Homo sapiens: one gene and its partner. The protein of the gene in region 1 purifies or fractionates together with the protein of each later gene. This does not show direct contact. Each region holds a gene or a part of one and is shown in the gene's direction. Other genes may lie near its edges.

What was found. Proteins that work in one complex are often made in the same cells at the same time.
Region 2: the proteins of DQX1 (region 1) and PRR14L purify together in Homo sapiens (affinity purification with mass spectrometry; one large-scale study listed by BioGRID and IntAct). This does not show direct contact.

The regions. Positions count from the first base shown.
Region 1 is NC_000002.12:74,517,584-74,520,540, reverse strand, and holds the end of DQX1 (ATP-dependent RNA helicase homolog DQX1), read left to right. Parts: intron 1-506; coding exon 507-626; intron 627-794; coding exon 795-985; intron 986-1,310; coding exon 1,311-1,501; intron 1,502-1,938; coding exon 1,939-2,095; 3' UTR 2,096-2,410; downstream 2,411-2,957. UniProt on the Homo sapiens protein: Might be involved in RNA metabolism; it is missing helicase motif III and may not have helicase activity.
Region 2 is NC_000022.11:31,733,027-31,736,682, reverse strand, and holds part of PRR14L (protein PRR14L), read left to right. Parts: intron 1-3,656.

The DNA.
Region 1 (2,957 bases):
CGTCATTTCATTCCCTCCACCCATACCAGATGGCTTGCAGTTCCCCAAATATGCTATATTATTAACTTACGTGCCATGCTGTTGCCACAGTCTAAAACATACTCCCTGCCCCGTCTCCACTCGGCTAATTCCTACTCAAATTTCAAATACTAGCCCAAGGGTCCTCATCGTTTTCTCTTACATCACTCACATCCTCACCACCTAAAGCCTGGATTAGGTATCCTCCTCTTTGTTTCCACAGTACCATATACAAACACCTATCATGCTTATCAAGTCTGCTTACCTGTTGGTCTCTCCCACCAGACTTGAAGCTCCTTGATGGCAGAGACTGTATTTCATTTACTTATCCTCAATGTTTAATAAAGTGCATAGCACCTAGAAGTTATCTATGTCTTTTGAATAAAGTTCCCAAAGGGACACTTCTGCCTTTTCAGCATTCTACCTGTACTACTATCCCTTCCCATTTCCCAAATGGCAGATTCTACCTTCCACTCTTCTGCCTCCAGCTGCCCCTGGGTTTACCCGTCCTCCACTCAGTGCAGAAGAAGCTGCCCTGCGTCGGGCCCTGGAACACACGGATGGTGACCACAGTTCTCTGATCCAGGTGTATGAAGCCTTTATACAAAGTGAGTTCTGCATCCTTTTATAGAATCCCAGATTTTCCAAAGAGGGGAAATTTTATGCAGCCAGCTGACAGATCTCTATGCTCAGAAAGAGGAGGCCCTTTGGCTAAGGGTTGGGTTATTTCAGGGGTCTCAAGGACTTTAGTTTAGCTGGTCCCTTTCCTCTCCTAGGTGGAGCAGATGAGGCTTGGTGCCAGGCTCGAGGTCTGAATTGGGCAGCATTGTGCCAAGCCCATAAACTTCGGGGAGAACTCCTAGAACTCATGCAACGAATTGAACTTCCCTTGTCCCTACCAGCCTTTGGCTCTGAGCAGAATCGCAGAGACCTTCAGAAAGCACTGGTGTCAGGATACTTTCTCAAGGTTAGAGGAAAGGGTGGGGGTGAGGGTGATCAAAGGAGCAAAAGGCAAAGAGAACAAATATTGGTAAGCCACTTTGAAATCAGGGTCCAGGTGGCCATTCAAAAGATTCTTTAGAACCAGAAAGGACTTTTCCCTTGAGGATTTGAGGTACAAGGGGCTATGGTAAATGCCATGAGGTATAGTAGAGACCAGACAACACCTAGAGGTAATGCTTTACTTTTCATGCTCTCATCACCCTTACTCTTTCTCAATCCCCTTTTATTTTTTTCTACTGCCTGCCTCTTCCCTTTTATTTATTCCGTCAATATTTCTGCCTTTCAATAAGGTGGCCAGAGACACAGACGGGACTGGAAATTACCTTCTCCTAACCCATAAGCATGTGGCCCAGCTCTCCTCATACTGCTGCTACCGAAGCCGCAGAGCTCCTGCCAGACCCCCACCATGGGTGCTCTACCACAATTTCACCATATCCAAAGACAACTGCCTTTCCATTGTTTCTGAGATTCAACCACAGATGTGAGTTCCCTGACATCCCTCCTATACTGCCTATTCCTCTCCCTGGGGCCAAAATTATGGCTGGGGAGTTAGAGAGACAGAGGAAGGGATCTTAGTGGTTAGTAAAAACATGATCTGAGGAGACAGGATTTGTGGAAGGGCTGGTGAGAAGTTTAAAAGTCTGCATTATAAGAGAAGATGCACTTTTGGAGACCTAGGCAGGAGGAGTCCTTGAGGCTAGGAGTTTGAAACCACCCTGTAGTCCCAGCTACTTGGGAGATTGAGGTGGGAGGATTACTTGAGTCTAAGGCTAAGGATTACGGGAGTCTAAGGCTACAGTGAGTTATGATCATGCCACTGAACTCCAGCCCAGGTAACAGAGCGAGACCCTGTCTCTAAAAAGAGAGAGACAGAGAGAGAGAAGATGCAGATCATCTAATTATGACTCTCTCTATTAGGCTGGTGGAATTGGCCCCTCCATACTTCCTGAGTAACTTGCCTCCCAGTGAGAGCAGAGACCTTCTGAACCAGCTAAGGGAAGGAATGGCAGATTCTACAGCAGGGAGCAAATCATCCTCAGCCCAGGAGTTCAGAGATCCCTGTGTCCTGCAGTGACCTGCCTGCCTATGGAATGGAGCTGGGTTCATCTCATCACATTAGATTATCCCTCAGGGTGACACCAAAGCACCCAGACAGATTTAGAAGCCCAAAGTTTAGGGTCAAATGTAAACCCTGGAACCTGAGTCCCAAGAAATGGTAGACTGGGAATGGAAAGAATGGGGTAAACCACAGTCTACATAGGGAAGGACTCTTTCCTTAGCCTTCTCTTATTGATTGGAGAGGGACTGACATGCTCCTCATTCTCTTAACTTTGCCAAACCCATTCTTGTACTCCCTTGTGATCTATAAAAGATTTTTCTATGATGCCAAGTTTTAGTTTGGTCCTGCAGTGCCATATACAACATCCATAAATCAGTGATGATATTACAGTAAATAACCAGGGCCAGCTCCTCCAACTATATAGTCTCTAGCCTCTTCCCATCTCCAATCAGGCCTTCATGCTATGATCGACATAGTTGTCACTAGCACAGACATGAGTTGTCTGGCTACAGTTGGTCTCTAGCCTGGCCTCTCTTCCCTCTGTCACAGTGCACCAGCCTCCAGGGGACAAAGGATGGGGGTGCTAGAGGAATCAGACAAATTCTTCCCTTTCTTCCTCATACAGCTTAAATCCAATTCCTTTTTAAACCTTAAGGCTAATGCAACCATCCCCTAACTAGACTTTCTATTAACAAGCTTCCCAGCAGCCCAGACACACCCACAAGGGGAAGTCTTTCTAACAACTTCAGAGACATCATGCTTTCCTTTCTTTCTTCCTAGGTTCTCCTTCCTTCCCTTCCCCTTTTGTGCCCTCGGAATTTTTTTTTTTTTTTTTTTTTAGACGGAGTCTCGCTCTGTCACCCAGGCTGGAGTGCAG
Region 2 (3,656 bases), on another chromosome or scaffold:
TGAATGTGGCTGTATTCCAATAAAACTTTATTAGCACAGGCTGCTGGCCTGAGGGCTGTGGTTTGCCAACCCCTGCTCTAGACCCACCATCAGGTTCATATGTTCTTTGGGCTGCCTAGGCTAGGCTCCCATCCCGCTCTTGATACATATATCTTTTCTTTACACAGGATAAAGGGCAGTTAATTGTTGTTAGTGGGCTTCATACAGTGACTATGATTAGGAATGAATGAAGCATTAAGTAACATTTGAACATGATATTTGAGTTTACACTGTGATGCCTTTTTTTTTTTTTTTTTGAGACAGAGTTTCGCTCTTATTGCCCAGGCTGGAGTGCAATGGTGCGATCTCAGCTCACTGCAACCTCCACCTCCTGGGTTCAAGCAATTCTCCTGCTTCAGCCTCCCGAGTAGCTGGGATTACAGGCATGTGCCTCCACACCCGGCTAATTTTTTTTTTTTTTTTTTGAGATGGAGTCTCGTTCTATTGCCCAGGCTGGAGTGCAGTGGCGCAATCTCAGCTCACTGCAAGCTCCGCCTCCCAGGTTCACGCCATTCTCCTGCCTCAGCCTCCTGAGTAGCTGGGACTACAGGCATGCACCACCACACTTGGCTAATTTTTTTTTTTTTTTTTGAGATGGAGTCTTGCTCTGTTGCCCAGGCTGGAGTGCAGTGGCACAATCTCAGCTCACTGCAAGCTCCGCCTTCCGGGTTCACGCCATTCTCCTGCCTCAGCCTCCTGAGTAGCTGGGACTACAGGTGCCTGCCACCATGCCCGGCTAATTTTTTGGTATTTTTTAAATAGAGACAGGGTTTCACCATGTTGGTCAGGCTGGTCTCGAACTCCCGACCTCAGGTGATCCGCCCACCTCAGCTTCCCAAAGTGCTGGGATTACAGGGTGAGCCACTGCGCCCGGCCAATGCCCTATCTTTTAAAAATACAGTTAAATAGGTAAAAGGCTAAGGATCCCAGAGTTCCTATTGTGTTACTTCTTGATGTGGTGGGCTGAGTCTAACAAGAAAAGTTTCTTTTTTTTTTTTTTTCCAATTTAGGGACCTGCCACTTCAGGAGAGAAAAGTTTTTTAATGTAATGTTTGATATAAAAGCATGCGTAATACACATAAAGTATAATGAACACACACATGTATATATGTGTTTATATATGCATACATATACATACACATGCTTACATAACAATCAACCTAAGAACTAGATTACTATCTCAGTGTTCTTTTTTTTTTTTTTGAGACAGATTCTTGCTCTGTCACCCAGGCTGGAGTGCAATGGCACGATCTCAGTTCACTGCAAGCTCCACCTCCCAGGTTCATGCCATTCTCCTGCCTCAGCCTCCCTAGTAGCTGGGACTACAGGCGCCCGCCATGACGCCTGGCTAAATTTTTGTATTTTTTTAGTAGAGACGGGGTTTCACCGTGTTAGCCAGGATGGTCTCGATCTCCTGACTTCGTGATCCGCCCACCTCGGCCTCCCAAAGTGCTGGGATTACAGGCGCAAGCCACCGCGCCCCGCCACCCTGTTCTTTTTTAAAATCATTCCTTTTCTCCCTCCCAGCTCCACCAGTGTATATTCCATTTTGAATTGTATAAAGCAGAATGAAATTTAATTGATATAAATGTTAACATTTTGTACTCAGTTTCAAAAAGTGATCTCCACAATTGAAAAGAAACAGAAATACTTACGGGGAAAGGGGAAACGGAAGACCTGCAGGTTTTAGCAGGTCAATTAGAATTGACTTTGTTCCAGGAAAAGCCAATTTGCTCTTAATATCATTAAGGGAAATGTGTTATCTGGACTGAGAAGTGGTGGTCATGCTCTGTTGTGTGCTGGTTAGGCCACAGCTAGAGTATTATACTTTCCTGTTGTTGTCATGTGTGTGAGAGGTATAGAAAACCAGGAATGCATTCATGGATAAGTATTCACACTAATGACACAACCTGAAAATATGCATCTGGAGGCCAGGTCATTGGGTGTGTAACTTGTGAAAGAGAACAGTCAAGAGACGTGAGAGAAGCCTTCAGCAATTTAGAGGTCATTCAGCAGAAGTGGTCCTGTGGGGCACAGTTAGGCCAGTGGAAGATGTGGGGCAGCAGCAACAGCTCCTAATCACTCTCAGGTCACAGGACCCTTTGGAAATCTGAACACTGCAGACCTTTCAGAAAAGCAGACATACCACTTGCATACCATTTCAGATTTGCAAACCCCAGGCATCCCCTGATCTCAATTTATAAGAGCTCTTGCTATATTGACAAAATATCCCACAGTCAAAAGACAGCTGACAAATTGAGAGAACATATTTGCAATGTATATCAGAGATAAAGGGTCTATATCTGTAATACATGAAGAACTCTTGAATTGAGGAATGAAGAACCAAACCCAATAGAAAAATGATAAGACTTGGGCTAGGTGTGGTGGCTCACACCTGTAATCTCAGCACTTTGGGAGGCTGAGGCGGGAGGATGATGAGGTCAAGAGATTGAGACCATCCTGGCCAACATGGTGAAACCCCATCTTTACTAAAAATGCAGAAATCAGCTGGGTATGGTGGTGCATGCCTTTAGTCCCAGCTATTCGGGAGGATGAGGCAGGAGAATTGCTTGAAACTGGGAGGCAGAGGTTGTAGTGAGCCGAGATTGTGCCACTGCACTCCAGCCTGGCGACAGAGTGAGACTCCCTTTCAAAAAAAGAAAAAGAAAAAAATGGGAAGACTTGATAATGAACTGTGTGTGTGTGTGTTTGTGTGGTGTATGTGTGTGTGTGTGTGTGGTGGTGGTGGTTAAACATAAGAGATGGTCAGCCTCGTGTAATTAGAGAAATGCAAAGTTAACCAGAGATACCACTTTTTTCCCTTTGATTTAAGGGTGTCGCTTTTTGACTATCAGATGGGTGAAAATGAAAATGTATGACAACGTATCTGGTTCAAGCAAGGCTATGAGGAAACAGACATTCTAATACATTGCTGGTGGGAATGCAAACTGATACAACCTTTCTGAGGAGCAGTTTGGCAACATTTAACAAAACTATTGGTGCCTCGACCTGTTCACCGAACACTTTAAGGAAACCTGCCTTAAAAGATAGACTTCTAGGCCTGTAATCCTAGCGCTTCGGGGGGCCGAGGCGGGTGGATCACCTGAGATCAGGAGTTCGAGACCAGCCTGGGCAACATGGTGAAAGCCTGTCTCTACTAAAAATACAGAAATCAGCTGGGCGCAGTGATGCATGGCCGTAATCCAAACTACTTGGGAGGCTGAGGCGGGAGAATCGCTTGAACCCCAAAGGCGGAGGTTGCAGTGAGCCAAGATGGCACCACTGCACTCCAGCCTGAGTGACAGAGCGAGACTCCGTCTCAAAAAAAAAAAAAAAAAAAAAAAACAGTGGCCAGGCGCGGTGGCTCACACCTGTGATCCCAGCACTTGCGAGTACGAAATGGGTGGATTGCCTGAGGTCTGAGGTCAGGAGTTCGAGACCAGCCTGGCCAACCTGGTGAAACCCCCATCGCTACTAAAAATACAAAAAATTAGCCGGGCGTGTGGCGGTCGCCTGTAATCCCAGCTACTCGGGAGGTTGAGGCAGGAGAATAGTTTGAACCCAGAAGAAAGGGTTGTAGTGAGCCGAGATTGCACCATTGTCACTCCAGCCTGGGT